2 separate regions of the Homo sapiens genome follow, and region 2 is linked to region 1. Evidence: fine-mapped expression QTL. A gene starts in region 1. The other region holds a variant in brackets. All regions are shown on one strand. Distances are between the middles of the regions.

Region 1 (16,622 bases):
ATTTCCCACTACAACCCAAGGGAGAGGGAGTAGTGAAGACTGAAAACTAGGCAAAGCCAATTCGTATTCTGATGAAACTTTACAAATGCTGCTTATGACAAAACCCAGTTGTAAAAACTAAAGGGTAAGGTGAACACCCAAACCCTGCCATTAAAATAACAAAGAAAGGGGCTCCCTGCTACCTTTGGTTAATCTTTTCCAGTGGAACCTTCTTGTCTTGTGTCTCATTACCTCAAGTCCCAAGATTTCCAACCCTGGGTAAAGACTGTCTCCTCAGGGCCAGGCACAGTGGCCCATGCCTGAAATCCCAGCAATTTGGGAGGCCGAGGCGGGTGGATCTCTTGAGGTCAGGAGTTCGAGACCAGCCTGGCCAACATGGTGAAACCCTGTCTCTACTAAAAATACAAAACTTAGCCGGGCATGGTGGCACATGCCTGTAGTCCCAGCTACTAAAGAGGCTGAGGCATGATAATTGCTTGAACCCAGGAGGCGGAGGTTGCAGAGAGCAGAGATCGTGCAACTGCCCTCCAGCCTGGGCGACAGAGCGAGACTCTGTCTCAAAAAAAAAAAAAAAAAAAGACTGTCTCCTCAGAGCTTGACAGTAGTTCTGCTAGTGAAAGTGATTTAGAGCAGCTGCTCGCAAGTGGGCAGAAGAGCCTGTGGCACACCTTTCTGACCCTTTCTCCTTTCCAAAGAGAAAAGAAGAGAGGTGACAAAGAATTGGAGAGGAACAAACTATCAGAGTAGACTTCTTGTTAGCAACATATTTTTTAAACCATTGTTATTTACTTTATAAAAGAATAACATGCGCTCACACACCTGATTTTATATTGATTCATTCAACAAATTTTATTTGTTCTACTTTGTATTAGGCACTGAAGATATATCAATAAGAGAAATGACAAAAAGTTATGTCTGCACAAGACTTTTCATTGTACTCTAAAACTGTGCCCTATTACCTGAAAAATAACCCAGTAGTTGTATTACACTTGTGTAGTAGGTCCTTAGGATGGATAACATGCCACATCCTCCTAGCTCAACCAACTTCAGCACTGCAGTGTCGGACAGCTCCATACACCTCTGCAAGGAATTCCAAGTCAGGCAGGGGCCACTTGTCTCTCTGCATTCCAAAGCAGCAGAAGGCTGCTAAGCTACACACAAACACAACCTGAAAAATCAATACCCTCCGGGGCAACCCACCACATGTGGGAGATGAGAACCCATGGATAAATTCCCCAGCATCCCACTCTCTGACTCCTTCACTGGGATCACCTCTCGCATAAACTATTTGTACCTTGCCGCAAAGTTTGCTCTGGGGAACCTAGAGCAAGGTACAAATAGTTTATGTGGGCTTGTTAGAACCCCAGATAAGCCAAGACAACTTGTAATAGCACAAGGATGCAATAAGTATGACACAAGTGAATTGTCACTGTAAAAGCAAATTTGGGGTGGTGGAACTGTATATAAACAAACTTCAGTGGTGTATTTGTGTGGTAGGGGTGTGAGTGAATCATAGTCAAATCATAGTTCATGCGACAATACACACTGAAGGATTAACAAAAATTATTAGAGAAACTATATTAGTAAGTCTGAAGCTGAATCAATAGCAGTTTATCATTAAATTTCAGAAGAACAGCCAATAAAAATATAGAACAGCCTAAGAAACATGAAAGAATGCAGCAATATGGTTTGGCTTTGTGCCTCCACCCAAATCTCAGGTTGAATTGTAATCCCTAGTGTTGGAGGAGGGGCCTAGCGGGAGGTGATTTGATCATGGAAGCAGATCTCCCCCTTGCTGTTCTCATGATAGTGAATAAGTTCTCACAAGATCTGGTTGTTTAAAAGAGTGTAGCACCTCCCTCTTCGTTCTCTTCCTCTGATCCAGTCATGTAAGATGTAACTCCTTCCTCTTCACCTTCCACCATGATTGAAAGGTGGCAGGCGAAGAGGAAGGAGTTACATCCTGAGGCCTCCCCAGCCATGCTACCTCTACAACCTGTGGAACTCAGTCAATTAAAACTCTTTTCTTTATAAATTACCTAGTCTCAGGTAGTTCTTTATAGGAATGCAAGAACAGACTAATACAGAAAATTGGTACCAAGAAGTGGGACATTGCTATAAAGTTACCTGAAAATGTGGATGCAGCTTTGGAACTGGGTAATGGGCAGAGGTTGGAACATTCTGAAGGGCTTATAAGAAGAAGATGAGGGAACATTGGGAACTTCCTAAAGACTTGTTGAATGGTTGTGACCAAAATGCTGACAGTGATATGGACAATAAAGTCCAGGCTGAGGTGGTCTCAGATGGAGATGAGGAACTTATTGGGAACTGGAATATAGGTCACTCTTGGTATGCTTTAACAAACAGACTGGCAGTGTTGTGCCCCTACTCTAGGGATCTGTGGAACTCTGAACTTGACAGCGATGATTTAGTGTAACTGGCATAAGAAATTTCTAAGCAGCAAAGCACTCAAGATGTGGCCTGGCTGCTTCTAACAGCCTAAGCTTGTACTCATGAGCAAAGAAATAATCTGAAACTGAAACTTACATTTAAAAGGGAAGCAGAGCATAAAAGTTTCCAACAATGTGGATAAACCATGTCACTTGAATTTATTGCCAGTATTTGAATATTGATATTCAAAATCATATAGTATTACAGATTTGCAGCCTGACTACATGGTAGAAAAGAAAAACCCATTTTGGAGGAGGAATTCAAGTCATCTGCAGAAATTTGCATAAGTAAAGTGGAGCCTAATGTTAATAGCCAAGACAATGGGGAAAATAACTGGAAGGCACTTCAGAGACCTTCACACAGCCCCTCCCATCACAGGCCCAGAGGCCTAGGAGGGAAGAATGGTTTCATGGGCCAGACCCAGGGCTCTGCTCCCCTGCACAACCTCAGGACACTGCTCCCTGCATCCCAGCTGCTCCAGCTCCAGCGGTGGCTAAAAGGGCCTCAGATATGTTTCAGAGGTGCTGCTCTGCTCCAAAGGGTGCAATCAAGAAGCCACAAAGGCTTTCACATGGCATTAAGCCTCCAGGTGTGCAGAGGGCAAGAATTGAGGCTTGGGAACCTCCACCTAGATTCCAGAGGATGTATGGAAATACCTGGTTGTCCAGCCAGAAGTCTGCTGCAGGGGCAGAGCCCTCATGGAGAACCCCTACTAGGACAGTGTGAAGGGGAAATGTGGGGTTGAAGCCCTCACACAGAGTCCCCACTGGGGTACTGCCTAGTGGAGCTGTGAAAAAAGGGCCACTGTCCTCCAGACCCCAGAATGGTAGATTGACAGCTTGCATGTGCCCTTGGAAAAGCACAGGCACTCAACACCAGCCCATAAAAGAAGCCTTGGGTGCTGTACCCTGCAAAGCCACAGGAGCAGAGCTTCCCAAGGCCTTGAGAGCCCACCCCTTGCATCAGTGTGGCCTGGGTATAAGACATGGAGTCAAAGGAGATTATTTTGGAGCTCTGAGATTTAATGACTGCCCTGCTGGGTTTCAGACTTGCATGGGGCCTGTAGCCTCTTTGTTTTGGCCAGTTTCTCACATTTGCAATGTGAACATTTATCCAATGCCTGTACCCCCATTTTCCATTGTATCTTGGAAGCAACTAACTTGTTTTTGATTTAAGAGGCTCATAGGCAGAAGGGTTTGCCTTGTCTCAGATGAGACTTTGGACTTGGATTTTTGAGTTAATGCTGGAATGAGCTAAGACTTTGAGAAACTGTTGGGAAGGCATGATTGTATTTTGAAATGTAAGAAGGACATGAGATTTGGGAGGGGCCAGGGACAGAATGATGGGGTTCAGCTCTGTGAACCAACCCAAATCTCATCTTGAATTGTAATCCCCAATGTTGGAGGAAGGGCCTGGTGGGAGGTGATTGGATTACGGGGGCAGATCTCCCTCTTGCTGTTCTCATGGTAGTAAGTTCTCATGAGAGTTGTTTGTTTAAAAGTATGTAGCACCTCCTGCTTTGCTCTTTTCTTCCTGTTACAGCCATGTAAGATGTGACTCCTTTCTTTTCACCTTCCACCATGATTGTAAGCTTCCTGAGGCCTCACCCACCATGCTTTCTGTACAGCCTGCAAAGCTGTGTGTCAATTAAACCTCTTTGCTTCATAAATTATTGTCTCAGGTAGTTCTTTATAGCCATGGGAAAACAAGCTAATACAAGCAGCATCCACCTTGGTTAATTCTTCTGCAGTAGGATCCTGACCATGGTGCCCAGGGGGATGTCAGACTTCTCAGGAGAACAAATTTATTTATTTATTTATTTGTTTGTTTTTGAGATGGGGTCTCACTCTATTGCCCAGGCTGGAGTGCAGTGGCACAATCATAGCTCACTACAGCTGACAACTTCTGGGCTCAATGGATCCCTCTGCCTCAGCCTCCTGAGTCGCTGGGACTATAGGAGGTACCACCTATATAGGCACCACCATACCTGGCTAATTTTTTTTTTATTTTTTAGAGACAGAATCTCACTATGTTGCCCAGGCTGGTCTCAAACCCTAGCCTCAAGTGATTCTCCTATCTTGGCCTCCCAGGTCATTGGGATTGCAGGTGTGAACCACCATGCTGAGCAGACATTTTAAAGAAACTTTAATTAGTCCTGAATAAACTAGGCAGAAGCCTCAGTATTTGGGTAAAGTCTGACATTTGATTCATATTAGGCCGTCAGAAGGAAACTGGACACGTACCTGTATCAGTGTCATCGCTGGATCACTAAACTTGTGAGTGTTCAGCACTCACATGGTCCAGAGACTGCCATCATATCCAATCAGCATAAAAATTCCAATAATGTGGACAAAGTATGTTACTTGGATTTATTGTCAATATCTGAATATTGATTGTCAAAATCATGTAAGTATTACAGATATGGCTTGGAGTGAAAATCTCCTAATGTTTTATGTATTAAAATTATTTTAACCAGTTGAGGTCTAAATTTGCATTTATTATCACAAAATATAATGCTGGCAGCATTAACTTCAGTAGTAGGGCCACCCAACTACCTTCACCACGAGAACTACATTAACACCTCCTCACACTGGCCATGCTCAAACCCTACCAGTGGGAAGGAGGCAAGCATTTTGCATTACTAGCATGCACACTAGGATGATCACAGAAGCAATCTATCATACTTACACTCCACCATCAGAAAATATAATGATCACATTTTTTAAAAAAATTCAAGTTTATTCTTTTATTCTAGAAATTTATCCTGTGAAGGTAACATGTAGCTGATGGTTGATTTTCAGCATTTGGTATGTTGTCATTGAGTGCATCTCTGATTTAAATGACAAATTTTATTGGTCCCTAATGACTTAGTAGTGTACTAGTGAGTAGGCCTTAATCACATGAAAAAATGAGTCTACCAAGTGGCCTTCCCCTCTTTGATAATGGCAAAGAAATGTCCCATGTTTGGGGATGGATGTCCAGCTCATGTGGCTGCCTACTGTCTACCTCTGGGCCACAGACCAGAGGCCAAGCATCGTTGTGTCCAGTGCCACCCAGGAAAGGTACTCATCTGCCTTTGTTCCAAGGAGGTCCTTTTTCTCAACAGTGTTTAAATAGTGCACACGTTTGTACATACCATAGAGCAGCAGTTCATATTGGCTGTAGATGTTGTGAAAACAATAGCCATTGAGTAGAGGCCAGGGATGTTGCCAAATATCCTACAATGCACAGAAGAGCACCCCCTCACACACACACTGCCACAACAGATAATTCTGACCCAAAATGTACATGGTGCCTAGATTGAGAAAACTTTGCACAAAAATAGTATCTTGGCCTGTCCGCCTCCTGCTCATGGGACTTCAGTTCAAAGAGAACTGAAATGCAGCTTTAATAAAAGCCTTTGTCTCTGAGCCATGAGTGTTGTGGAAACTGGGGCCAGCTGAGGTGTGTACTTGCAAGTAGGATAAAAACTCAGACCTGCATACTTCCCAACATCCCTCTACAGACAGCTGCAGCCTATTGGATCTGATCTATTGATGTCCACAACCTGGGATACCTAGATGTGCTAAAAGAGCAACTATAGCACGACAAGGCTTCCAGCTGGGTGAGCGGGAGGAAAACAAGAAAAGAGCTTTGTGTCCAGGGTACATCCACCCAGCCAGCCTCACATATCACATTTGCTGGGGATCTGGATGGTGGCAGGGCTCTCACAGCTGAGGAGCAGTCCACAGTGCAGGAAGGAATTCTGTTACAACTCACTCCAAAGCTGATAAACAGCCAGACAAAACTGAAGCTGTAGCTGCCCTGTGTGACTGCATCAGCCTGTGGAAGCCATCAAAACAATTCAATAACTCAATGACATAGTCCTAGTTCCAATTCATCTTTCTAGCAGGCATCTGTTTCTATTATATTTGAACTGTGCAGAGGAAATTGGATAAGGCATGCTAGCACGGGACACTGCAAGCTGCAGCAACCACATGCCCAGCAGCGGGAGCGGGAGGATAGAAGACAGGAGGAGAGAAGCCAGGTACTGAATCTCAATCAGAAGCAGCTTAAAGGTCAGACTCTGAAATTTCCTTCAGAGCCCATCAAAGCCTACCTGTAATTTCCACAACAAAGTAACCCAAAGCCATTTCTTGGTGACCCCCAGTGTCAGGGTACTCACCCCTCATTCACAGACAGACAGCCCTCAGTGGTAGAGTAACAGCATCAATTCTTCTCCCCATCTGTTTCCACTCACTGGCTCTGCCCAGCCAGCCAAGAGTCAAAGCCTTAGGCATTGGAGCATGGATTCATGGTCAGGTTCCACTCCTTGGTTGAAATTAAGGGTAACTTAAGTTCTATGGGTGGAACTGGCTGGAGGGAAGACAATAATTTGGCAAATGACAAGTGCTCCAAGGGGACCCGTGATACATTCTATCTAGGTCAGGGGTGGGCAAACCATTCCCCATGGGCCAAATGTGGCCACTTCCACTCACTGACCCATCTTCTGTGGCTGCTTTCACATTTCAATAGCAGAGCTGAGTAGCTGCAACAGGACCGCATGGCTGGCAAATATTTACTCTCTGGCCCCTTCCAGGAAAAGTGGCCAGCTCCTACTCTAGAGACCAGACTTCTAAGAAAAAAGTGAATCTTCAGGATGCAGATTTTCAGTAGCATACATGGGAGGACTTGAGAAAGAAAGGAACAGGCATGGAGATACTGAAGCCCCCTCTTCACAATGGTGAGTGACAGCTCATAGTCTCAGGAGTAATTGGTTGATAGAGGCAGACTCTAAGGCAATGAGATAGAAGGAAGAATATTTTTGATGAAGGGGCAGATGGAGGAACCTTTCCTAGTGTAGGAGAATCCCTCAGCAGAAGAGAAGCAGCGCCCATACCTGCATGGGGTGGAAAGAAAGGAGCAGGAGCCCCCAACAGCAACTAGGAGAACCACAGAGAAGCCAAAGAGAAGCTAAGAACTTGATCTTGTCTTGAATTTCTGTAGCATCTGAGACACTAGAGTTCAGTCCTGCATTAAGCTCAGGGTTTTCCAAACCAGTCAGTCCACACGGCCTTTCCACCTGGTAGCTGCCATTTCCATCCAGGCCCTGGAATTCATGAGGTTACCCTTTGGAGAATGCTGCATTCAACCTACCCACTCCCTTTACAGATTGGACAAACCCCCTTGACACCGTACCTCCGTGTGAACATCACACAGCAATTCATGGAAAGCGTGCACCCATTAGCAGGATGGGAGAGGCTGGAAACCAGCCCTGGCACATTCAAGATGCCCTCCTATGGGAGGAAGAATTGCAACAGCATTTTGTGCTCTGAATGCCCAGTCTATAGGAAGATGAACAGAATGTGCACTAAATATTTAGGCATCTGAGCTGTGGTAGCTCATGGCAGGAAGCCACGCTCACCTCCCAGGACCTGATTCTGCCATAATACACTGTCCCAGAACCACTATAGATCACCTCACCACTGGCTGAGGAAGACAAAGACAGGAGCTGAGTGTAGATGGGCAGCAGGCTCATCCTTGTCTCCCTTCTGCTGGCTGATGCACACCTTGTCCAGCTTGCTTAAGACACATGCTCCAACACCTGTCATTGTCAGGCATTAGATTCGTGGCCATGCCTGCTGTGCCCACCAAGCTGCCAGCACCACATGGCTGCTGCTCACTGGTGTGCGGTGTGTGCCCAGCCTGAGGGCCAGGCGAGCTCAGGACACAGACCTCCCAGTGCCAGCACATAGGAAGGCCCTGGTAGCTGGCCAGGGAGGCCTAAGCTCACTTCAGTCATCAGACACGAAGTTCCATTCTCTAAGGATATCATCTGGGAGGAGGTGAAGCCTTTCTGTCTTGAAGGTTGGGTCTACCTCCAGGTGTGAAGGAAGGACATTTCATATACAGGGGAAAGAGGTATTGGCCAAGAAATATGGAGCCCAGATTCAAAGGGGGACAGAGACCCCATCTCTTGATGGAAGGAGGGTCAAGGAATTTTAGAAACTTATTTTCCCCAAACTTCTAGAGTTGTTGACACCAGTTGTTTATTTGTCACATTGCTTATTTATTCACTTACTTATTCTTTAAAAGTTATTTTAAGCATAATTAAAGATATAATTCATCTCAGACTATTATCACGAGATTATTGTCTTATTATTACCTTCCACACTCCAAAGCCACCACCCTTGGATGACATAAATATCCAATGACTATTTATCAGAACCATAGGCATTTTTATCTACCTGTCACCTTGCAGGGTCAACATTTACAAACACGTCGTTATTACAGGAACACAGAATAAGATAATGATCTTATTATCAAGACCACAGATAATAATCGTGGCTCGTTGAAGCCCTTTGAACCCAACAGCTGTGGGCCCATCTGGAGCTAGTGGCCTTACTTCTCTAGATCAGATTTGCACACTTTGAAAACTGCAGCAGTTAGGAAGCTGCAGCATCCCACAGGGGGAAGCAGCTCAACAGCCAGAGCTGGGCTGAGAAGCGGGTATCTGGAAGCTTGCTCCTTAATGCCTCCTGAGGAAGCGCTGGGCACACACCTGGCACAGCCCACATGCAAGAGTTAGCACCACCCGCACACATAGTGCTCAGCTGTTCCTTTGGCAGCACTGTTGTTAGCAATGTGTGACCGCATTGGGAGGGGGTCTGAGTACCATGGAGGTGACTGAGATGCTCTGTACCTCTGTTACTTAGCACAGTGCAGGGCAGGAAGCAGGAAACTCAACAGATGTCTATTCAATGATTGATGGGCAGCTGCCAAGCAACTTCCAGAGTAGGGGGTCCCATGATGCAGATCCCTCCTCCCCACCCACTCCATGTCAGCCTTATTTCAGGCCTCACAACATCCCACTTGAAATATTAACTGAGCTCTTGGCCTCAGTCATCGTGTTCTCCTGTCACCACTGCACCATCTCAAAGTGGCCCTTCCTACCCCACTAGGCTTCCCACTGCCCCGCACACAGCCAAAGCCCTGCCCTCACAGCCTGGCCCTCCAGATGTCTGCAGCCTGGGCCCCATCTGTCTTCAGACTTCGCTTCCCATAAAGTTTCCTCATCTGGCTTTTGGTTTTGTTTCACAAATAAGCCACACACACATGCACACACAAAGAGGTACATGCACACACAAAGAGGTACATGCACACATGTGCAAACATCTGTGACCACAGACCCAGATGCCAGCACACACGTGCACACACACTCATGCTTCCAGGTGCAAATACACATACATACACACACACACACACACACACACCAGCTCCATACTTTAAACCTCTTTCCCCTGTATATGAAATGTCCTTCCTTCACACCTGGAGGTAGACCCAACCTTCAAGACAGAAAGGCTCCACCTCCTCCCAGATGATCTTCTTCCCAAGTTGCAATTGAGTTCTCCCTCCCCATTTCTCTATACAGCGGCAACAGACTCACCATCACGATACCATTGCCGTCTTCTCTCAATGCAGGTGCCGTCCATGCTGTGAGTCCCTGGAGAGCAGCAGGGATACTTTTTACAGCTTTTTCGATGCTCACTTACGGCCCCCAGCAGAGAGCACCTCAGCAGGTGCTCCAAGAACGATGTTGCCTTGGAAAGGTAGCGAGGCCCTGAAACACAGAGAATAAGGGCAAAGTCTGGGCTGCTCTCAGAGCCTCAGGGCCCTGCCACCCCAAAGTCCTAGGACAGGGAGCGTGTCCTCTAACTTTTCTCTCTCCCTGCACTTTATCTCCACCAGGAATTCTCAACCTTTTTTGTTCTAATAGAGCTCTCTTCAACCGCCTGAAAAAGTTCCTAATCCTTTTATAAAATATTGTCTTAAAATGCACATAATAGGCTGGGCACAGTGGCTCCTGCCTGTAATCCCAACACTATGGGAAGCCGAGGCAGGTGGATCACTTGATGTCAGGAATTCGAGACCAGCCTGGCCAATATGGTGAAACCCCGTCTCTACTAAAAATACAAAAATAAGCCAGGCATGGTGGTGCACGCCTGTAATCCCAGCTACTCAGGAGGCTGAGGCAAGGAGAATCACTTGAACCAGGGAGGCGGAGGTTGCAGTGAGCGGAGATCATGCCATTGAACTCCAGCCTGGGCAACAGAGTGAGACTCCATCTCAAAAAAAAAAAAAAAAGAAATGCACAAAATAAATATTACAAAGGGCCTGAGTGATGCTGAAATCCAGCTCTGCGTTCACACTTGAGTTGGGGGATGGCAGGTTCCCCAGCACCGTGTGCTCCCAGGTTCCCAGCAAATGTGAGCTCACTCTCCCTGGAGCCCTTGCCCTGGGTCCTGATCACCAGCCCCCTCTGGTTGATCTTCCCTCAGGTAGGAAGTAGCCCTGAGGAGGGGGAGCACAGAGGAGTTGTGGGCAGGGGTGCAGAAGGAGAAAATATGTTGAGGACAACAGCATCAGAGGCCAAAGGCAGACTCTGGCTGCTGGTCTGCACAGACCACCATCTATGGGTTGCAGAATCTGGGTGGACACGTAAGGAGAGGAGGGAAAAGAGAGAGAAAAAAAAAACTGTCACAGGCAAGCACAAAGAGTAGCTGCCCTCAATTAGGGCTAGTAAAGAATTGTTCCCACTGCACGGGGTTTTCCAACTGCAATCTTTGGGCTTGTGAAGCATTTTCTCTGCATCTGTTGTTGATGCCATTAAGTAGAATGAGTCACTGTATATATTAAGCACTAAGACCAGCAGCGACATAAGTCTATGAATTCAATGATCATGCCAGCTTTAAGTAGAAAAGGAGCTTTTTTTTTTTTATTAAACCAGTGGCAAAGCAGAGGAAATCAAGTAATTTTTACATTATAAGATTTTTGCTTTTTTTTATACTGTGTCTATTTCCTTTTAATGACAGTTATCAAAAGTCACTTTTGGGAAAAGGCTTTGAAATTGAATAGAAAAATCTCATGCATTTACTTTTCCTGTTTTTCTGAAATTCAAATAAGATGTGAGCGACAGGCGCTGAGTGCTCCAGCCCCCATGCTCAGCAATCGCAAGCTTTCTTCAGACCTCTCTTTGCAAGCTCGGGAGGAGACCAGAGAGGTTCCTTAGGAGGATCCCTGGCTGGAATCTAGGCCAGGAAGCCAACAGCAAAATGTGTTTGGGGTGAGCATCTGTGTTTGGGGCCTTCTGGCATGGTAACACTCTGACCTGGGGTGTTCGACATCACTTGTGCTCTCAGCACAGCTTCCAGAACAAGCCAATGGCCCCAACAAAGGACAAAGGGTCCAGAACCATGTGACCAGAAAAGGAAGACAGCCAGGTGTATTTGACAGCTCCCAGAATGACCTGGCCAGACACTCAGAAGGCCACGGAAGCTTCGCTCAGGCATGCTGCCAGTGTGTGTTTATGTCCCAAACCCTCACACAGCATTTGCTACCTGACTGGCCTTTGGCAAAGGGCTTTAGAGATGTTCCCCCAAGTCCCACATGGCACAGAGGGCAGGTGCGCATGCTGTGACAATTTCACAGGTGAGGAAAGGGAGGCCCAGGGAGCTTACAGAGCTCATGAGAGGTGCAGCCAGGATGTGAGCCCAGCCAGCTGGCCCCACAGCCTGTGCCCATGTGTGACAGGTGCCCCTCTGCCCCTTTCGTGGGGTCACATTGCCTAGTTGCATCAGAAACTTAACCCAACCTTACAGCTTGGTGTGTGGGTGGGCAGTGGAGGGTGGTGCAGGCGGCATCTCCTTACCTCTGATGCAGCATCCACCAGAAAAGCTGCAGAGAGTGTGGAAGGCAGAACAGTACTTCCAAAAAAAAACTAAAAACATCCAAGTCCTGATCTCCAGACCTGTGCCTATGTTAGGTAACGTGGCAAGGCGACACTGAGGTTGCAGATGGAATCAGCAGGCCTTGAAAGAGGGCACTTGTCCTGGATGGTCTTCATGTCCTCAGTGTAATCACAAAACTCCTCAAAAGTGAAAAGAGGGTCAGGGTCAGAGGAAGATATGACTATGGAGAAAGGCACAGAGAAACGCACACTGCCAGCTCTGAAGACAGAAGGGTCCACAAGCCACTAGCCGAGGAAAGCAGGAGCCTCTAGAAGCTGGGAAAGGCAAGGACCAGATATTCCCCTGGAGCTACAGAAGGGACCCGCCCTATCGACACCTCCACTTTAACCCAGGGGGACAGTGCCGGGCTTCCAACCTCAGGACTGTAAAACAATAAAATTGTGAGCCGGTGTGGTGGTTCATGCCTGTAATCCCAGCACTTTGGGAGGCCAAGGCAGGTGGATTACTTGAGTTCAGGGGTCTGAAACCAGCCTGTGCAACACAGTGAAACCCTTGTCTCTACAAAAAGTACAAAAATCAGACGTGTGTGGTGGCGTATGCCTGTGGTCCCGGCTACTCAAGGGGCTGAGGTGGGAGGATTGCTTGAGCCCAGGAAGTAGAGGCTGTAATAAGCCAAGATATCACTACTACACTCCAGCCTGCGCAACAGAGCAAGACCCTGTCTAAAAAAAATAAATAAATGAATAAATTTTTAAAAATAAAATTGTATTGTTAAGCTGCTAGTAAGTGGATCAGTCAGTATTCAAGCCAGGTGGTGTTAAGCATTGTGTCCCTGGGATGAGTCATCATTCATAATCATTGATGAAAGTTTTAAATGTTAAGTATAACTTGGAATGATTCTACTGTATTGTTAATAACTTACAGTTATCATGAATCACTAGGCCAAAATATGCTATTGTTAGGAGAAAAAATTTCACCTCTACCACTTGGGTCCCATGCTTGGGGGCCTGCAAATTAACTGAAGATAGATTAACAGGAGAAAAGGCAAGGTTTATTTACATGTGCACGTGGGAGTTGCTCAGCCATAAGTAACTTGCAGAATAATGTGAAGGTTTATATGAGGGGACAGTGCATGTCCTTGCACCTTCACTTTGGACTTGACCACATGATTTGTTCCAAGCAATGGGATGCACATAAAGTGACAGTGTGCCAGATACAAGCAGAGGCTTTAAAAGGCATCATTTGCTTCTGCTGTCCTTCCTGACTTCTACCTTGCACCCTGAGGAAAGCATGCCCCAGGGTGTAACTTCTCTGCCAGCCTGGGTCCTGGGTGAGAAGAAGGGTGGCCCAAAGGAGTCCAGCCAAGAGGAGCAGCTTAGAAGCTGCAGCCAGCCTCAGACCCCAGAGTGAGAAACAAACATTTGCAGTTGCAAGCTACAGAGATGTCTGGACTACCTGTTACTGCGGCAGAAGCTAACTACCACAAGAACACGTAGATTTTTGGCCTAAGCAACAGTGAGGATGATGGTGCAACTTGCTAATTTGAGTTGCAGCAAGTGGGGTGGGAAGGGGGAAATTAAGATTTCATTTTAGAATACACTTAGCAAATAGCAACACCTCCCATGCTATGAAGGATAAGATACAAGACACAACTTTCATACTCCTTGCATTTGGAGAATAATACAATTATTTGTATTTGGAATTTAATATCCCAAATAAACATTCATATCCTTTACACTCAACCTGTTCATTGTCAAACATTTTGTTCCCTGAAATTGCTTAATTCACATTTATTCAAAAAGAAAGTGCATTTGGAGTTAAAACTAGTTTTACCCAAGAGGGTCTAAAGAGCTTAAAAATAGAAATGGGATTATGCCAGGATGAAACCCATTAACAACTCAGCTGAGTGAGGTCAGTGGGGGAGTGAGCCTAGGAGCTCCAAGTAGGGAAGAGAGCCCCCATCATCATACCCGGATCATCAGGAGAAATGACATCCACATGGATGGCACACTCTAAAGACAGCCAAGGGAAACTTTGCCAAAAAAGCAGAAGATTTTTTTTTCTTTTTCATCAAGATAATGCCACTTTAACCAAGAAAAGGAACAGATTTTGTTTGAAAACCCTAACTGGATATTTGGTTATTAATAATGTTATATCATATTAATACTTTTATATCATTTTCATTCACCATCTACCATATTTCCCATGTAATGATATAATCTTCATAACTAGAATTTTAATGGCTGCCCAATGAATAGCTATATCATAATGTTGGGGGTTTTTTGTTTGTTTGTTTTGTTTTGTTTTTTCAGATGGAGTCTCACTCTTTCACCCCAGCTGGAGTGCAGTGGCACAGTCTTGACTCACTGCAACCTCCACTCCTGAGGTTCAAGCAATTCCCCTTCCTCAGCCACTTAAGTAGCTGGGATTACAGGCACCCACCACCAAGCCCAACTAATTTTTGTATTTTTAGTAGAGACGGGTTTCATCATGTTGGCCAGGCTGGTCTCGAACTCCTGACCTCGTTGTCCATTCACCTCTGCCTCCCAAAGTGCTGAGATTACAGGCGTGAGCCACTGCACCTGGCCGTGTATTTTTAATTTATCTTATTTTGTAACTTAGCTTTTTCTACCAAAAAATAGGCATTCATGAAAAGTTGTTAAATATACATTAAGTGAGGAAAGCAAGACATGCTGGATAATATCCTTTGCATTATGTCATTAGCCCATTTATATGCTGGAGGTTGCAAATTTTTTTGTGAAAAATCAGACCACAGCGATGACCTTGAGCAGTAGGATACAAATAACTCCCACAAGCTTAGCATTCCAATAATGGAACACTAGCCATAAATGGGTTAAGATTACAGACAATACATTTTGTGTATGAATATACTTATATTCATTCTGGACAGATTAATGTTAAATTATAAGCGAGGTGAGTCTATAGAAATTATTATTTTAGTTACTAATTTCTACATCATTTATTTATGATGAGCATGTAGTTATTCTGTAATTTAAAAACAACAAAAACAAGATATTTACCAATAAGTAATAGAAGAAATGATTCATTCCAGAAAGGCTTGAGGAAAAGATCTTGACGCTAAAGTACTGTAGCTAAAACATATTGAAATAGGGCTGGAAGAGAGTGGCATCATTAGCGAGGCTTTCAGTCCACACACAATGAAGAACCCAGCCCCAGCTTACATCTTCCAGTCCGGCAGAGCTCCTGACAGCTTAACACATACTTCAGAATGTTTATTATACTTTAATATGGATACTGTATTCATATTTTATGTTCTTCTATTGTTTCTAAGTATAGCCTGGATAAACAAGTCACAGAGTAGACACATAAAAGCACACAGCTAAATTCACATTTTCTCTTAATGTTAGAAACCACAGATGCATTAAAAAGGATCATTAGGGACAGAGGTGCACTTTGATGTTTTGATCTAACCCGTTTTCACATTCAAAGGATGCTTCGAGTGTTATTCAGAAGTACATAATTGTGCTGAGAGCAAAAAGCACTTAGTGTCAGCTGAACACTCGCTCAAAGGCTCAGTTGGCAATACACGAGGATGTGTTGGAGGATGCATTGACTTGGGCCCTTCTGAGCTCCGTGGAGAGCTGGTGGGAGACAGCTACGGGGCGCCGGCACTGGTGAGGTCCAGACGGGTGCCTCCTGCGTTCTGCGCCAGGCATGGCGAGGGGCATCTCCTTGCCACCTCCTCTTTGTTTGCCTCCACCTCTTGCCCCTCCCCACCACCCCATTTCCATTCCTTCACAGGAAAAGCTAGAGGCACAGAGATGTGTTTAGTCCTGTGGTGGATGAACTCATCTCAGAACGCCAGCTGCACCATCTTCACGCAAGGGTTTACAATTCTATCCACTTTCACAGTGCCTTTGGTATTTGAGCTTGGATGAAACCAAAAGGTCACCAAAAGCTTCAGGAGGAACTGCTGAATTTCACTGATGGCTGAGTCAAAAATCTCCAAATTTAGCCCGGCTGATCTCCCTCTCCAAATGCTGATTCACGAGGCTTCGATGCTTGATGCTTCCAACACGGCTGGCTAGCAGGGGAAGTTTGAACACAGTCTGAAACCTTGCAAGCTTCTGCCTCATTTCAAGGCCTGAGTATATCCGAGTTTCCCCTGAATAATTAAATGGAGTGCTCAGACTGGCATGGGGCCGTGGCTCTATTTATTCTGATGGAATCTCCAAGACCAGGTCACATTCAAGATAGCGCACTGTCAGTGTGTGCCTGCCAGGCCGCCTAGCCCTGAGGCTCTGCAGTTTTCTTTTAGCTTTACAGTCTCTCATAGATTGAGGCAGTTTTGTGAATCGCTGCTTAAAAAAGAAATCCCGTTTAAGGTTGATTCAAAAAATGGATCTTCTATTTGGTGCCTTAACACTTGAAGTCAATACAGGTTGAGCATCCCTAATCCAA
Region 2 (16,622 bases), 49 kb after region 1:
TGCTGCACTATAGCTAGAACTTGTATCTCTGACCTTTTGGGATGGAAAACAGCCATAACTCTTTCCCTTTACTGCTTAACGAAATCTAGTGATTTACATTTGCAGTTTTGCTGCAAGAAATACTAGAATGTTCTTGCTGTTCCAAGCCAGCACCATCAGGGAGAGGCTGCTTTGCACTGGTCAAGAAAGTATGAGTCCGGGGGTTTCGTCTTAACTCTGACACTTACTAGGTAAACAACCTATTGCAGTTACTTATCAGGTCCTTCATGTGTGAAATCAGAGATGTGACCAAATCAATGCAAGAAAACCTGGATTTTAAAAATCTAAAAGCTCATTCCTGTATGTGTTCTCAGGACTATTACTAACATAGGTGCACACAACTCTCGCACAGAAAACAGTGAGCAGCCTCCCCAAACATACTTGGAATAAGAACCCTTTCTTTCCTCCTTCGACAGAGCAGATATTTTCACCTCTCAGAACTAGCACTCCACGGGCAGTTTGGGAACATCAGACCAGCTTGCTTTTCAGGTGCTTCTGGCTGCCATTTTTTAAAAATTTACAATATAGCCCTCATAGGACTTTTCACCTCTTAAGGAAAAAAGAAAGTTTTGTGGCTGTTCTTTAGCCTAAGCAGGGCTTTGAGGACCTATGATGTATTTCATATATTTAATAAGCTTTTATTTACATGTAACTTTTTTTCCACAATAGAATATTAAGGATATTCTTTTTTTTCGTTTTGTAATGCCATTAGAACGGAAGTTCCATAAGGGCAGGTATTTTTGTATTTTTGTCTATTTTTTTTTCCACTGGCACATCCCCAGCACCCAGGCTGTGCCTACCACACAGCAGGCACTCGAATGCCAGTGATGAAGAAGTCACGATACCACACCATAACTGAACAAGATTTATACCCAAGACTAATATCAAGAATGTTACTTACTCAAAAACTTCTAACGGTACAGTAATATCATGAAGCTGCTGTCTGCACTTGTCAATATCCTGTAAGCCAGTAACAATAAAATTCCTGGGGGAAAGGCAAACACACAGGCATCTGGTTAATTTCGCTTGACAGCATAAGCACCACCCACAGAGCTACCCAGCCAACCGGGGCTCCACGCAAGTTCGTTCTCCTCACAGCTATGCGGGTTACACACGGTTCTGACCTCTTTGGTTAGCTACAGGATTCCTAGGACACCGTTAGAGTTACAAAATACCCTTAAATATTTGTTACTTTCCTTCTCAACTAGAAATTGCCAGTAAGGGGGATGGAGAGGGAACCTGATGAAAAATATGAACCTTCTCTCAAAAACAATTACCTGACTGTGCATATGACTGTGTGTGCGGTTTCAGCGAACACATGAGGCAGCGGACTATACTCAAAGTCTGAGGGAAAGAAAGCCATACTGTCTGGTTTAGCTTCCTCTCCTCTCTGGAGCCTTCCTACAGCATCAGGCTGGTCTGGCTATTCCCACAGCACTAGGTATGGAACCTCGAGTGCAACATTTTCTATGTCCGTGCCACATATAAAGCCCTTCTCGAAAGTGCTGTACTTGCATTTGCCTTTTCTCCAACCCAGGGCCTAGCAACATGGGCAGCACAAGGCTGTTGCCAAGAAATAATAATAATAAACGTTCTGCAACCTTTCTCAGCACCACCTCCCCGCTATTTCCTCCACTGTCAGGCCTATGCGGCAGGTGGCTTCGGAGCCTCACCTTCTGAGGCCTAGTTTAGGGCGTGCACTCACTGTGGAGCCTGCCTCCCCTCTGGAGACAGGGACTGAATTCCCAGAAGGGCTCCAGGAGGAAAAGGCTGGGAGGGGGTTACACATGAGAGGGGAGACGCTAGAAGAGAAAGCATGATTCCCTTGATAGGGAAACGTAAAGTATATCATCTGGCCATGACGACGTCTCCAAAGGGGCCTCAAAGAGGTTGGCTCTTGGCAACAGGCTGGAGCGCGGGCCCCGCCCTCTGAACACAGCCAGGAAAGGCGCCCCGGGCTCCGGGACCAGACCAGAGGGCTGGCGGGGCACGAGTAGCGGTCAGGCTCGGCTCGGGCTCCCTAGATCCCCGCTCCCCTAGCACACGCTTCCCGGCCAGGCCCTGGGGAGACCCCGGCAGCCTCGGGCCGCCACTCACAGCTTTTGGTTGAGCCCGGCCTGGCTGCTGGGCTGGAAGTCACTGACGATGATGCCGAGCTGCCGAATGTTCTCCACGAACTTCTCCAGGTGCTCCTCTAGGTGGTCAAACTTCTCCGCCATCGCCTCGGCCCGTCCCCGACCCACACAGCCTCAACCAGCAGCGCCGCAGGCGTGGCCCTACGCTCCCGCTTCCTGCTTCCGTCCGGACAGATACGACTTCCGTTTCCTCTGGGGGAGCGCGGGCGAGCTCTTGGGGGCGGAGCCTCGTTATCGGGACGGGCGTGTTGGGGCGGGGCCTAAGTGCGGGGCAGGGCGGGCTTTCGGGGATGCGGTCTGGATTCTGGAGGAGGCCTCGGCGCGCAGCTGGGCGAGTACTAACTGTTTGCACTCTCATCAGACCTGCCTCGGTCATGGGAGAAGTTGAAGACTTTCTGCAATGCAGCATCTTCAAGCAATACACACATGGATGAAAATCCTAAAGTTTGCATGAAGGACCAATAACGGTAGTTTCCCTGCCCCTCTACCAGAACCCCTGGGATCAGCGCCTGCCTGCCTCCTTTCTTCTATGTAATCGGCGGCCACCTCCCCTAGCTCTTGCTGCTAACCATGCTTCCCGGACACCTGCTGCCTTCGTAGGTCAGGGTCTCACCTCCTCGGGCCAATTCTGACCAAACAGCACCCTGTGGGGTTGCCCTGTCTTAGTAAACTGCTGTTTATCTCATTGAAATTCAGTTTAGGTCATTTCACTCTTATGTTTAAGAAACTTTTCTGCCCGATCTCCTATGATAGCGGATATCTCCTCTAGCCTGTTTGAATTTCTCAAGTGATTTATTTTACTGAATATATTTGTGGCCTGTACTTTTCAGTGCCTAGAAACAGGCAAAGTGAGGGAGCTCCTTTGCTAGATGATCTTCAGAGCCTCTCCCAGCTGTGACCAGAAATGGAAAGCCAGAGAAGGTAAGTGACTTGCCAAACTTATGGAATCAGGGCACTCCAGTTGGTGGGCTGGGCTGATAAACAGAAATGTTACATAAAATACTTCTCTCCTGATTTAACAACAATTAACTTTAGGGAATTATAAAACAAGATGGAGGCTGGGCGTGGTGGCTCAGGCCTGTAATCCCAGAACTTTGGAAGGCCAAGGCAGGTGGATTACCTGAGGTGAGGAGTTCGAGACCGACCTGACCAATATGGAGAAACCCTGTCTCTACTAAAAATACAAAAATTAGTCAGACATGGTGGTGTGCGCCTGTAGTCCCAGCTACTTGGGAGGCTGAGACAGGAGAATTGCTTGAACCCAGGAGGCAGAGGTTGCAGTAAGCCGAGATCATGCCACTGCACTCCAGCCTGGGCAACAGAGCAAGACT[C/CA]AAAAAAAAAAAAAAAAGGTGGAAATAAAATATTAGACAAATAAAAAATTTTAAGTTATTAGGTAGAGGTAGCGACATGGAGTGAACGGCCTTTCTCAATTTCATAAGTAAGAAAGATAGATAATTGATGGAACTTAGGCTTTGGTAAGTATTTATTTTAAAAATTTAAGGGTATCTCTTTGCTAGTATATATAATTCCCAAACTAGTAGACAGGGGGAAGGGAATAAAGAAAACACAATCAACTCAATAGAAGGCAAGAAAAGAAGAGAATAAAGAAGCAAAGAACAAGCATGGAAAATAAAACTCACAACGTAAAGTGCAAAAATTAAAGGCACACGACTCAACAGCAAAAAAGCAAAAGAAGAAATTTATAAATGGGCAAAGGACCTGAACAGATACTTCTCAAAAGAAGACATAAAAATGACCAGCAAAAATGCTCAGCATCACATATCATCAGGGAAATACAAATTAAAAGCATAATGAGATGTCACCTTACACTGTTAGAAGGGCTATAATCAAAAAGACCAAAGACAATGGGTGTGGGTGAAAATGTGGAGGAAAGGGAACCCTTGTACACTGTTGATGGGAATGTAAATTAGTGCAGCCTTTATGGAAAATAGAATGGAAGTTTCCCAAAACTCTAAAAACAGAATTACCATATGATCCAGCAGTCCTACTTCTGAGTATATACTGTGAACCCTGAATATCTGAGACAGTTCTCAGTTAATTTAGAAAGTTTATTTTGCCAAGGTTGAAGACACACACTCATGACACGGCCTCAGGAGGTCCTGATGACATGAGCCCAAGGTGGTCAGGGCACAGCTTGGTTTTATACATTTTAGGGAAACATGAGACATAAATCAATATGTAAGTGTAAGGTATACACTGGTTCTGTCCAGAAAGGCGGGAAAACTCAAAGCAGGGAGGGGGCTTCCAGGTCACTGGTAGGTGAAAGACAAATAGTTACATTATTTTGAGTTTCTGATTTGCCTTTCCAAAGGAGGCAATCAGATATGCACCTATCTCAGTGAGCAAAGGGATCACTTTGAATAGAATGGGAGGCAGGTTGTCCCTGAGCATTTTCCAGCATGACTTTTCCCTTTAGCTTAGTGATTTGGGGGCCCCAAAATTTATTTTCCTTTCACAATACTCAAAGGAATTGAAATCACTATGTCAAAGAGATATCTGTGTTTCCAGAAAGAGGTCCCAGTCCAGACCCCGAGAGAGTTCTTGGATCTTGTGAAAGAAGGAATTCAGGGTGAGTCCATATAGTAAAGTAAAAGCAAGTGTATTAGTAAAATAAAGGAATAAAGAATGGCTACTCCATAGGCAGAGCGGCCCGAGGGCTACTGGTTACTTGCTGTTATGGTTATTTCTTGATTGTATGCTAAGCAAGTGGTGGCTTATTTATGCCTCCCCGTTTTAGACCATTTAGGGTAACTTCCTAACAGGTCATGGCATTTGGAAACTGTCAGGGCAGTGGTGGGAGTATAGCAGTGAGAACTCTCGTTGCCATCTTGGTTTTGGTGGGGTTTAGCTGGCTTCTTTACAGCAAACTGTTTTATCAGTGAGGTGTTTATGACCTGTATTTGGTGCCGACCTCCTATCTCATCTTGTGACTTAGAATGCCTAACCATCTGGGAATGCAGCCCAGTAGGTTTGTTTCAGCCTTATTTTACCCAGCTCCTATTCAAGATGGAGTTGCTCTGCTTCAAATGCCTCTAACATCTGTACCCCATAAAAATAGACAATTATTATTTGTTAATTAAAAATAAAATTAAAAAGTGTATCATGAACTGTGTTCCCTGTCATTAAATGTGTGCCTTCCCCACTAAAAACATACGTTAGTGAACACAGTAAATGTTAACAGATTTAACATTTAATTAATTTAATTAATTAATTAATTATTTAATTTAACATTTAACTGTTAGTCTATCCTAACAGTTAAATGTTAACAGATTTAACTGTTAGGGTAGACTCTCAGATTAGAATCCAATTGGAAGTGTTTTGTTTTGTTGTTTTAATCTAGCTATGTTGCTTTTCAAAGGTACACCTAAAACAAACTTATAGACAGGTTGAAAATAAAGAGGGAGGATAGAATAATATATGGCAGGCAACCAAAAGAAAGTTGTTAATGCATATAAAAGTTAGTAAAGAAACATTAAAAAGATGCTTTTAATGGTAAAGAGAAGACTCATTAAAGATAGAATACTATTCACCTATAAGCAACTGACAACATAGTCCCATATTATCTAGCACAAAAATTGACAAAATATGAGGAAAAATTCAAAATCCATAATTATTACAGAGGATTTGGAGTACCTCTATCAGAAAACAATAAATCAAGTAGGCCAAAAAGCATATGAAGAATATGGAAGACTTAAGTAATATATTAAGAATTGTGATCTCTGAAAAACAGTGACCCCTGAAGAATAGATTGTTTCCAAGCACATTTCAAATACTTACAAAAACTTGACCATTCCCTAGACCACAAAGAAAGTTTCAGCAAACTCAGATCCTATCACATAGACCAGATTTTCTGACCTCGTAATTCCAGTAGAAATCTATGAATTTATTCATTTTCTACACATACATACACGTTCGAAAATCAAAACACACTCTAAATAATTCATGAGTTTACATACATCTGAGAATGGGCAAGACCCAATTATGTCTGTTGTCTTCGTGTGATTATTAATAGCACTCTTCCACTCACTGTCAAACATGTCCCAGTTTGGTTGATACGTTATGTGGACATCCTATTTAAAAGGAAAATTATAAAACATTTGGAATTAAATGACAAGAATTCCCTGTCAAACTTCTGCTTTACTCCTGAGGTAATAATTTGAGGGAAAACAGCCTGGAAAAAATAAACTGGAGTTTCAACTCAAAGAGTAGGATAAAAAGAATCAAAAGGGAAATCACAGGCACCAAAAAATACATAAAAAGGGGTGACAAAAGTAAAGACAGACACTGATGAAAATGAGAACTATTGCATTAGTTTTCTGTCTAGCTGCATTCGAAGCTGGAAAGATAAAAATGAAGAAAAGTTGATTGTTGAAAAGATGAGTCAAATATATATACTTCTGGCAAGTCTCATCAGAGAAGAAGAAAAGAAAGGTGCTAAAAGAGAAAAATATACAGTATTATAAATGAGTGAGGGTGAGGGTAAAACTTATATGTTCATAATTTTGAAAGCTTAGAAGATATAAACAATTTTCTAGGAAACTACCAGAAATTAACTTAAGAAAAATAAACAATTAGAATAGTTCCTAGTCTTTCAATAAACTGGCCAGTAGGCAAAAATCTCTTTCAAAGATAGGAGAGACATAAGCTCGGACAGTTTTTTATACTAATTGTTTAAAAATCAAACATTAAAGAACAAATAATTTCAAACTTACCCAGATACATTCAGAGACTAGAAAAAGAAGAAATACATCCCAGCTCATTTTGAAAGAGCAGTATAACTTTTATATGAAAATCATCAAGGACAATACAAGAAAATATAGGTCAATCTTCCTTATGAAAGTAGATACAAAAGTCTTAAGTAAGATATTATCAGAATTAGATCAGTTGTCATGCATCAGGCATCTATTGCTGTATAGCAAACCATGCCAAAACTTAGTGGCGTAAAACAACCTCAGTCCTTCATTTTACCCACAAATCTGCATTGTGGCCTGTGCATGGCGTTCACAGCTTCTCTCTGCTCCATGTCACATGGGCTGGGGTGGCTTCACTGGAGGCTGAAGGACCTGCTTTCACAATGGCTTATTCAGCGGGGCTGTGGGCTGGCGACCACACATCCCCCCCGTGTGGGTGTGTCCCTGGGATTTGGGAGCTTCCTCCCTGATGGTGGCAGGGTGCCAAGAGCACAGAGCTCAGGAGAAGCAGGTGAAAGCAGCACCACCTCTTATGACCTTGCCTGGGAAGTCCCCCGACAGCCAGGGCACATTTAGATCCCCAGGGAGGGAACATAACCTGTCTTCCCGGTGGAAGAAGTAAGAAGTCACATTGATAGAGGAGCAGGTGAGATGAGAACTTGTTGAAGCCGTGAACCCCAAGTATCTGAGACAGACAGGTCTCAGTCAATTTAGGAAGTTTATTTGCCAAAGTTAAAGACACCTGCCTGTCACACAGCCTCAGGAGGTCCTGACAACATGGGCCCAAGGGCACAGCTTGGTTTTATACATTTTAGGGAGACGTGAGACATCAGTCAATATATGTATGTACAGTGGTTCCACCCGGAAAGGCAGGGCAACTAGAAGCAGGGAGGCAGTTTCCAGGTCATAGGTAGGTGAGAGACGAATCGTTGCATTCTTTTGAGTTCCTGATTAGCCTTTCCAAAGGAGGCAATCAGATATGCATTTATCTCAGTGAGCAGAGGGCAACTTTGAATTCTGTCTGTCCTTTGTCCACAGAGAAATTCCTTGTGAGGGAGTTATGTCGCTTTTTAATCTTAGTAGCTACGTTTTTTAGGAACAGAATGGGAGGCAGGTTCGCCCTAAGCAGTTCCCAACTTGGCTTTTCCTTTTGGCTTAGTGATTTTGGGGTCCCAAGATTTATTTTCCTTTCACAAAGCTGTTTTTGAAAAATACAACCTGTCACCCATCACATTGGGAAAAAAGTTATGATCCATTGTGCTTTTCCTAGGATTGCATGAATTATGAAATATCATAAAATCCATTATTATAACAGTCTGTTAAGGATTAAAGGAGATAAAATACCTCAGGTAGATTTTTTAAGTAGACACTGGATATTAATAAAATTGAACCCAAATCATGATTTAAAAATAAAAAAGAGGCTGGGCATGATGGCTTACATTTGTATTCCCAGCACTTTGGGAGGCTGAGGCGGGCAGATCACGAGGTCAACAGATCAAGACCATCCTGGCCAACATAGTGAAACCCCGTCTCTACTAAAAATACAAAAATTAGCTGGGCGTGGAGGCACGCACCTGTAGTCCCAGCTACTCGGGAGGCTGAGGCAGGAGAATCCCTTGAACCTGGGAGGCGGAGGCTGCAGGAGCCAAGATCGCACCACTGCACTCCAGCCTGGCGACGGAGCGAGACTCCATCTCAATAAAATAAAATTACATTAAATTAAATTAAAAAGAAACCTTTGAGAAAACTAAGAATAGAAAAGAACTTTCTAAACCTGATGAAAGATGTTTTATCTACTAAGAACATAGAGAAAGCATTAGACTCAATAATGAAACTTCAGGAACATGTTTGTTAAAGTCCTGGACACAGCCGGAAGCTTCACTGTCGTGTTCTAGGCCTCTCTCCCGGCTGCTGGTGGTTGCTGGCAGTGGTTGCTGTTCCTTGGCTGGCAGAAGCATCCCTCCTCTCCACCTCCAGCTTCACGCGGTGTTGTCCCTGTGTGTGTCTCTGTGGCCAAAATTTCCCCTTTTCATGAGGACGCCAGTCGGGTTGGATTAGAGCCCACCCTGATGACTGGAGTTTTTCACTGAATTACCTCTGTGAAGATGCCATCTCCAAATCAGGTTGCGTTTGGAGGCGCTGGAGGTCAGGACTCCAACATATCTTTTTTGAGGGGATATAACTCAACTGTAACACCCCTCCTTCTCTGCTCAAGACCAGCAGCACTCGTTGTCTGTATTGTGATCGCGGGATGTTTAATTCAGGACCAGGCCATAACGAGCATAATGATGGTGTTAGTCCCTGTGATTAACCATCAGCTACAGTTTCTAAAGCACTCATCTCCCAGTTGTCCACAATGACTACTCCAGTGAAGATTGTTCCCTGCTGAAACAAAAAGCATCCCAAGCCCACTTAAACCTACATTGAGACCGGGCACGGTGGCTCACGCCTGTAATCCCAGCATTTTGGGAGTCCGAGGTAGGCAGATCACGAGGTCAAGAGATCAAGACCATCCTGGCCAACATGGTGAAACCCCCGTCTCTACTAAAAATGCAAAAATTAGCTGGGTGTGGTGGCAGGTGCCTGTAATTCCAGCTACTTAAGAGGCTGAAGCAGGAGAATCGCTTGAACCCAAGAGGCGGAGGTTGCAGTGAGCCGAGATCGCGCCACTGCACTCCAGCCTGGAGACAGAGCGAGACTCCGTCTCAAAAAAAAAAATAAATAAACAAAAAGATAAACAAACAAAAAACCTACATTGAAATTCTTCCTTTTACTCAAACAGCTAAGTAATGGCTGCTTTCCCTTTATTTAGCAACATAATACTGTTGGCTTGTTTATAAGAAACGTTTTAACATTTCAACACTCCAGTCCCCAAATGTAAATGAAATTAGGTTGGAAAATTCCAGTAAGTCAGAAGGTCGGCCTGGTAGGAAGCCGTGTGCAGAAAGCCTACAGAGCATTGCTGACTATACGTTTTGTCGCCTTGTTTTCCCTCCGAAGTCGACATGAGCTGCCCCTAGGAAATTTCCTTACTTCTGATACTTGGTGACCTTGAAATCTGGAGGCTGTTTTTTCCCTTCTTCTTTACCTTTTTTTTTTTTTCATTCACACTATTATCGCTCCATCAGCATCCAAAGCCCTTAGTGGTATCATTTGGAACATGTTTTGCCATTCATTCTAATTTATTCTAAGAGCCAGATTCAGCTTAAGTTTAAAAAAAAAAAATGCAGCTCTCCTACCCAGAGGAAGGAACAGCTGGTTTCTGCTTCTCACTTTGAAGATTTTCAGCACATTAGTAGTTCTAGCAGAAGGGAAGATTTGCAACTCTGTTGTTTGATGATGATGGTGATGATGATGACGGTGATGATGGTGATGGTCATGATCATACTGATGACAATATCTGCCATTTTGGAACATATTTTATAGATTATAGACTGTCTCATTTATTCTTCATAACCCTAAAGGAAGCTACTATAATTTGAACCATATGTGGTCAAAAGAAAGCCAAAAAAGTATCCCTAAATACAGAATTAGGAGACAGAATAATTTCATCTGATAGAAAATGCTGACATTATTTTCCCTCAAGAGCTACATTGACACATGAATGTTCAAATAAATTAGGTTTCCCGTTCATTCTATTAGATTCACATACCAATGAGAGTGCCTGACTTGTGCAATAAAAAAATAGAAATTGTATCTTTTTTTACACTAACAAGCATTGAGAAGCCGTAAGATTTCTCTTCTCTTCTGTTTTCCTTTCTATGCAATATTTGCAGCAATGTGCAGCTCTACCTGGAATTCTGTGTGATGTATGTGATCAAATTTTTAAAAGCAAAAAGATGAGATTACACTAATACAGACTGGCATGTGATCCAATCAGCAAATGGAAGTATGCAGTTGGCTTTCACTATCAGCTTTGTTTTTTTGTTGTTGTTGTTGTTGTTTTGTTGTTTTTTTTTTTTTACAAATTGTCACAAGCTCAAAAGAGAGGGCAGGACAGCATTACAGAAATAGGGATAAGGTAAGACATCTAACTCCTTAGCAGATTATACACACAAGCATAGAAATACAAACTTTTCTAGGCTGCATAGCAACTTCACCCTCCTGGGTCTTTCGGCACACGGTGTAAGCCCTGTTATCTCATAGCGTTTTGTAAAAATTAATGACTTTCAGTTGAAGTCTAAGTTTGTCTTAAACACTCCAAAGAGAAATGAGCTATGCTCAATTTCTCTTCTCACATATGCTCTTCTCATTGTGGATGACCCAGAAAACAAAGTCTTACCTTGCAGAAAATCGTGGTGCACGCAGGCCTGGAACACCTGCTCCGGTTCTGATCAAGAAAGACAGATAACCAGGAGACTGTACAGCAGAAAGCATCTGAAAAAAGCAAAAAGAAAGCGCTTTTTCAGAAAACTAAGTAAGAATATATGAAAATTCTTCATTATGGAGGATGGAAGCTCAGAGGAGACAGGACCAACATCTGCACAACTTTGAACAAATACCTGGCTATTAATACGCAAGACAAGAGAACTGGGCTCACCTCCTTCACTTTCTAGAAGGTGGCTGTAGTTTCGTTAGTCCACGTCCTCTGAGGAGCAGATCCCAGGATGGGATTAAACAAGAACTTTCTTAGAAGAAATACATGTGACAGAAAAAGGGAACCAGCATGGCTGGAAGAACCATCAGAACAAAATGCAGGTCTGATCCCAAAAGAAGGGAGGGAGAGAGGGAGGGAAGGAAGGAGGGAGGGAGGGAGGAAACAAAGGGAGTCTAGAAGCATCTTAGACTGTGGTACAGTCCTAAGGAGAGTTTGGTAAGACCACTGAGAAGCCCCCAAACCAAAATCGCTCACCAGCAGAGTCCCCAGGAATGGACAAACCTTAGCCTTCCTGCATCACTCACTCAGTCATTGGCTGAGCAGCCCATGGAGGCAAAAAGTGCAATAGATTTCAAAGGAGAGCATTAGGGCCCTTGGTTAATTCTGCCCTTACCATCAGATATCTGAAAGATGCATTCTTGTGGGTGCCACATTAGGATAAGCAACAGTAATGATGATGATGATGATGATGATGATGATGATGATGATGCCATTTATTGACAACCTATCCAAAGTCAAGGATTGTACTAGGTATTTTACATATATTAAATATAATTATCAAAAACAATCCTCCCTAGGCTGGGTATGATTGCTCCCCATTTTCTCATGAAGAAATTGAAACTTGGGTAAATATTTTGCCAAGAAAGGGTGTAGAGTTGAGTATCTGATCCTTCAGGCATCATATTCTTACCACAGCAAACAAATGAGAGAATTTTTGCTTCTGCAATAAGAAATAGAGTTCGCTGAATTTATTAAGCTAAAAAGTTGAGTGTTTGGTGGGTTTTTTTGGGGGGGGGGTTGTTTTTACAATATAAATTTTTGTTTACAATATAAATAAATGCAGCATTCATTCTACTTAATTCATAAATGACAATGTTGGAAACTAGAGGGCCGGGCGCGGTGGCTCACGCCTGTAATCCCAGCACTTTGGGAGGCCGAGGCGGGCGGATCACGAGGTCAGGAGATCGAGACCATCCCGGCTAAAAAACGGTGAAACCCCGTCTCTACTAAAAAAATACAAAAAATTAGCCGGGCGTAGTGGCGGGCGCCTGTAGTCCCAGCTACTTGGGAGGCTGAGGCAGGAGAATGGCGTGAACCCGGGAGGCGGAGCTTGCAGTGAGCCGAGATCCCGCCACTGCACTCCAGCCTGGGCGACAGAGCGAGACTCCGTCTCAAAAAAAAAAAAAAAAAAAAAAAGAAACTAGAGCCATTGTACTTTCCCACCAAGGAGCTCATGACCACACTGAGCCCTCAGTGACCCCAAATGGCATTTCTTATGTCCCCCTGGCTGTCTAAAGTGGAGCTCAGGTATGGCCAGGAAGGGACGCAGCCCCAGTACTTCTTTGGTATATGACTTTGGCCCATTTCTAGAATTGTCTTGGTCTTCAGTGAGATGGAGCAGGGACTCCTCCTAGGGGCCTGCAGGTCACCCCCTGCCCAGTGAAGAAATAAAGAAAACTCTTAAGTTCCTTCAGGAAAAATTCCAGGCACCTAGCTCACACTGAAAAATAACTGAATAAACAAAAAGATAATAGTAGCTTAAAACAGTAGCCAAAAAAGTTAGTCAAGAGATATGTTATTCCCTATAAAAACTGAAAATAACACCTTAACATATGTCCCTGAGTTATTTTTCAAAAACCTGAACCCCCACCAAACAGATTTGCTAACACATAGACCTCAAATTAAGGGAAACTAAAAACTAAACTCTGGTCACTGTTCTTTGTTCTAAATTTCTTCCTAAGGGGCCTGGGAACGTCACACCCACAAGTTAGAGCTATCAGTTTGGTGCAAAAGTAATTGCAGGTTTTTTTTTTTTTTTTTTTTGCTGTTACTTTCAGTGGCAAAACGTGCAATTTTGCACCAACCTAATAACATTGTTTTCTGCTGATCCCACATTTTTAGACAAAGCTTTGCCTCCTTAGCCAATCACAGATCAGAAATCTTTAAATCCACCTATAACCTGTGGGCCCCCAACTTCCAGTTGTCCTACGTTTTTAGGTCAAACCAACGTATAGTCTCCATATTTGAATTTATGACTTTACTTGTAACCTCTGCCTCCACGTTGGTAAAAACCCTCACCTATGAGCCATCTGGGAGTTGGGTCTTGAACATGGGATGCCTGATTTTCCTTGCTTGGGGCCCTACATAAACGCCTCACTTTCTCTTGCTACTATCCCAACATCAGTCTTTGACTTCGCTGCACCCAGTGAACAGATCCCTGCTGGATTCACTTACATCAGATTTCTCCTCCTGGAAATAGAAGAAATGTGCCTATTGATGTGTGGAGCATCTCGCATGGCACCTGGAATGTAGAAGGCATTTGGTAAACGTGGCTTCCTTCTATCAGTTTCTACCCAAAATGTGCAAAGCCAAGCTTTCCTTTTTGTGCTGTATACTGGCTCCTTCTTCCAAAAATGTATTTGATGATGTCATTCCTCAACCTAAAACCTCCTGACATCACCCCGCTGTCTACACCAGGGATGTTAAAATCCTCTCTCTGCATAGCCCCATCCCCATGACCATGTACTCACTCTATTACCCCAATTCTCTGGGTGAGGCAGGAGGAGAGGAGTGGGTGCATGTGCCCCTGGCAGAGGGAAAGGATTCTCGGAGGGGTGAGACAAGTAGTGTGAAAAGAGTCGACCTCCAGGAAGCTGCTCTGCAGCCCTCATTTCTCCTTTGAGAATCGCTGGTCCTCAGAACAAGTTCTAAATCCTTACCACCTGATCTGATACCACCTTCCCACTGACCAGTGCCCTACAGCCTCATGGGACCCTCACCAATCCCGCCTCTTTGCCTTTGCTGGTTTCTTTTCTCTGCTTTAAAGTCTTCTTCCATACCTTCTGCTTTACTTGGGGAAATCTGAAATAAATGTCAGCATGTTGGTGAAGCTTTTGCTTACTGCCTCAGGCAGAATTAATAGCTTCCTGGTCAGCTCTGACACATCTGGGCCCTGTTCCCTCCTCAGAGGTAGAGAATCTGCTAGAGGCTGAGAACCGTCTCCACCTTTAGACAGAATGCGTTTAGTGGTTACTGCCTGCATCCCAATGAAACCTGCTCTGCCCTTCTGCCATAGAAATGGAATTGAAGCCAGACCCATTGCTACCCACTGTCTGTGTTTCCCGTTGGTATGGTTTGGCTGTGTCTTCCCACCATTCTCATCTTGGATTGTAGTTCCCATAATCCCCACGTGTCATGAGAGGGACTCGGTGGGAGGTAATTGAATCATGGGGGCAGTTTTCCCCATGCTATTCTCATGATGGTAAGTTCTCATGAGATCTGATGGTTTTATAAGGGGCTTCCCCCATCACTCGATTCTCATTCTTCTCTCTCCTGCTGTCTTGTGAAGAAGGATGTATTTGTGTCCCCTTCTGCCATGATTATAAGTTTCCCAAGGCCTCCCCAGACCTGTGGAACTGCGAGTCAATTAAACCTCTTTCCCTTATAAATTGCCCAGTCTCAGGTATGTCCTTATAGCAGTGTGAGAACAGACTAACACACCCAGGCTTCCCTGAAGTGAGCTGTGGCCTTTGCACTAAGGGATGGGAGCAGGAATGATGGGTATCTGCTCGGGGTGGGAACATGAGGCATCAGGTGCATCTTCTTCAGGCTGTCCCTGATGTGCTGGTGATTGGTCCCACCAGGCAGGTGACAGTACCCCAGAGCAGTGGAACACTCTGAGATAATAGAAGTGTTTTGAGATCTGTGCTGTCCAACACGCGAGCCACTAGACACTTGAGCTATGGCTAGTGCAACTAGGAACTGAAATTTCAATTGTCTTTAAATGTATTTAAATTAATTAAAATTAAAATAGTCACATGTCACCAGCGGCAACTGTATCAGCCAGTAGAGCCCCTGAGGATGGAGGAGCAATGGTTTGGAAGGAACATGGATCTTAGAATGCCCAGTGGAGCAGAGATTCTCCACCTAAATGGATTACTTATCTCAGAACAGTTGAGTGAGAGAAAAACAAGGCAATGTTTTAGGACAGTTAGGAAGATAGTATCAATAGTATGACATAATGGGTATATCAGGGACTTGGGGCTCACCTTTTGAGTTCAAATCCTAGCCCTACCACTTAATAACTGTATGGCCTTGGGCAAATGACTTCATTTCCGTGTGCCCCAGAATTCTCCTCACTGCACTGGGGACACTGAGTCCACGTATCACCTGGGTTTGTTGTGAGAATCAAATGAAGTAATAAATGTAAAACACTTAGAATATGGCATCCCCATTTGTTAGCTACTGTGATGACATTTGAGGTCTCTGTTACAGCATCTTAGCTTTGCACGAATGCACCTGGCTTTGCATCACGGCTCCCACATCTACCACTCGGGTGCCATTTGTTTTCTCAGGTTCTTGGGGGTGATGCGAGTGAAGTACTGAGTGCTGTGTCTGGCCCCCATCAAGCACTCAATGTTGGTAGTCACCCTTATATAAAGTGTCATGTTGTCATATCAGTATCTGTTTGGATGTCTCCCTTGGAGGTGTCTCTAGGATAGGGACTGTCATTTCTCTTTTTGTTCTTCATTGATTAGCACAGTGAAGGTACTCGGTACATGGTTACTGAATGATTGGCTGATTGCATAAATAACTCTTCTAGTGTTAGTTTACCTGAAAACCCAATACTGTACCTATTGAGGCTTCTGAGGTGTCCCCTGGCCATCAAATCCCTATGGTACTCTAACAGCAGCATGGCCAAACAAAGGCATTCTGTCCCTGCTGCCCAGATCCTTCCTCACCCTTTACCTTTGCAACACTGAGCGGAACGGCTCTTCACGGGGATGGCCACTCACCCAGGCATCATTAGGAAAGGTGAGGGGGTGTTTTTCGGTGTCACAACACCTGGATAACTGTGTTCTCCAGCTTCCTCTTGCTGCTGTAGCAAATTACTGCAAATGCAGTGGCTTAAACAACACACACTCAGTCCATAAATTCTGAAGGTGAGAACTCTGAAGTGAGTGTCATGGGACTAAAATCAAGCTGTTTGCAAAGCTGCACTCCTTCTGGGGGCTGCGGGGAGAATTGGCTTCCTGCCTTTCCCAGCTTCTGGGAGCTGCTGCATTCCTTGGCTCCCGGCCCCTCCTCCATCCACAAAGCTAGAAATCCCATCACTCTAGCCTCTCCTTCTGTCCTCAC

The links. PIP is the estimated chance that this variant, and not a neighbour inherited with it, causes the effect.
Region 2: its variant is fine-mapped to the expression of LINC02145 in subcutaneous fat (FUSION, PIP 0.95).

Annotation. Positions count from the first base shown.
Region 1 is chr5:6,327,273-6,343,894 of GRCh38, forward strand. LINC02145 (long intergenic non-protein coding RNA 2145) reads right to left here and starts at 10,020. Exons shown (of 2, transcript NR_028351.1): 1 at 9,878-10,020. RefSeq lists an enhancer at 15,774-16,274.
Region 2 is chr5:6,376,226-6,392,847 of GRCh38, forward strand. It overlaps MED10 (mediator complex subunit 10), which reads right to left and starts at 2,322. Exons shown (of 4, transcript NM_032286.3): 1 at 2,137-2,322; 2 at 941-1,024. The coding sequence starts at 2,258. RefSeq lists enhancers at 2,057-2,266, 2,557-2,776. The variant C/CA (reference allele first, on the strand shown) is at 3,506.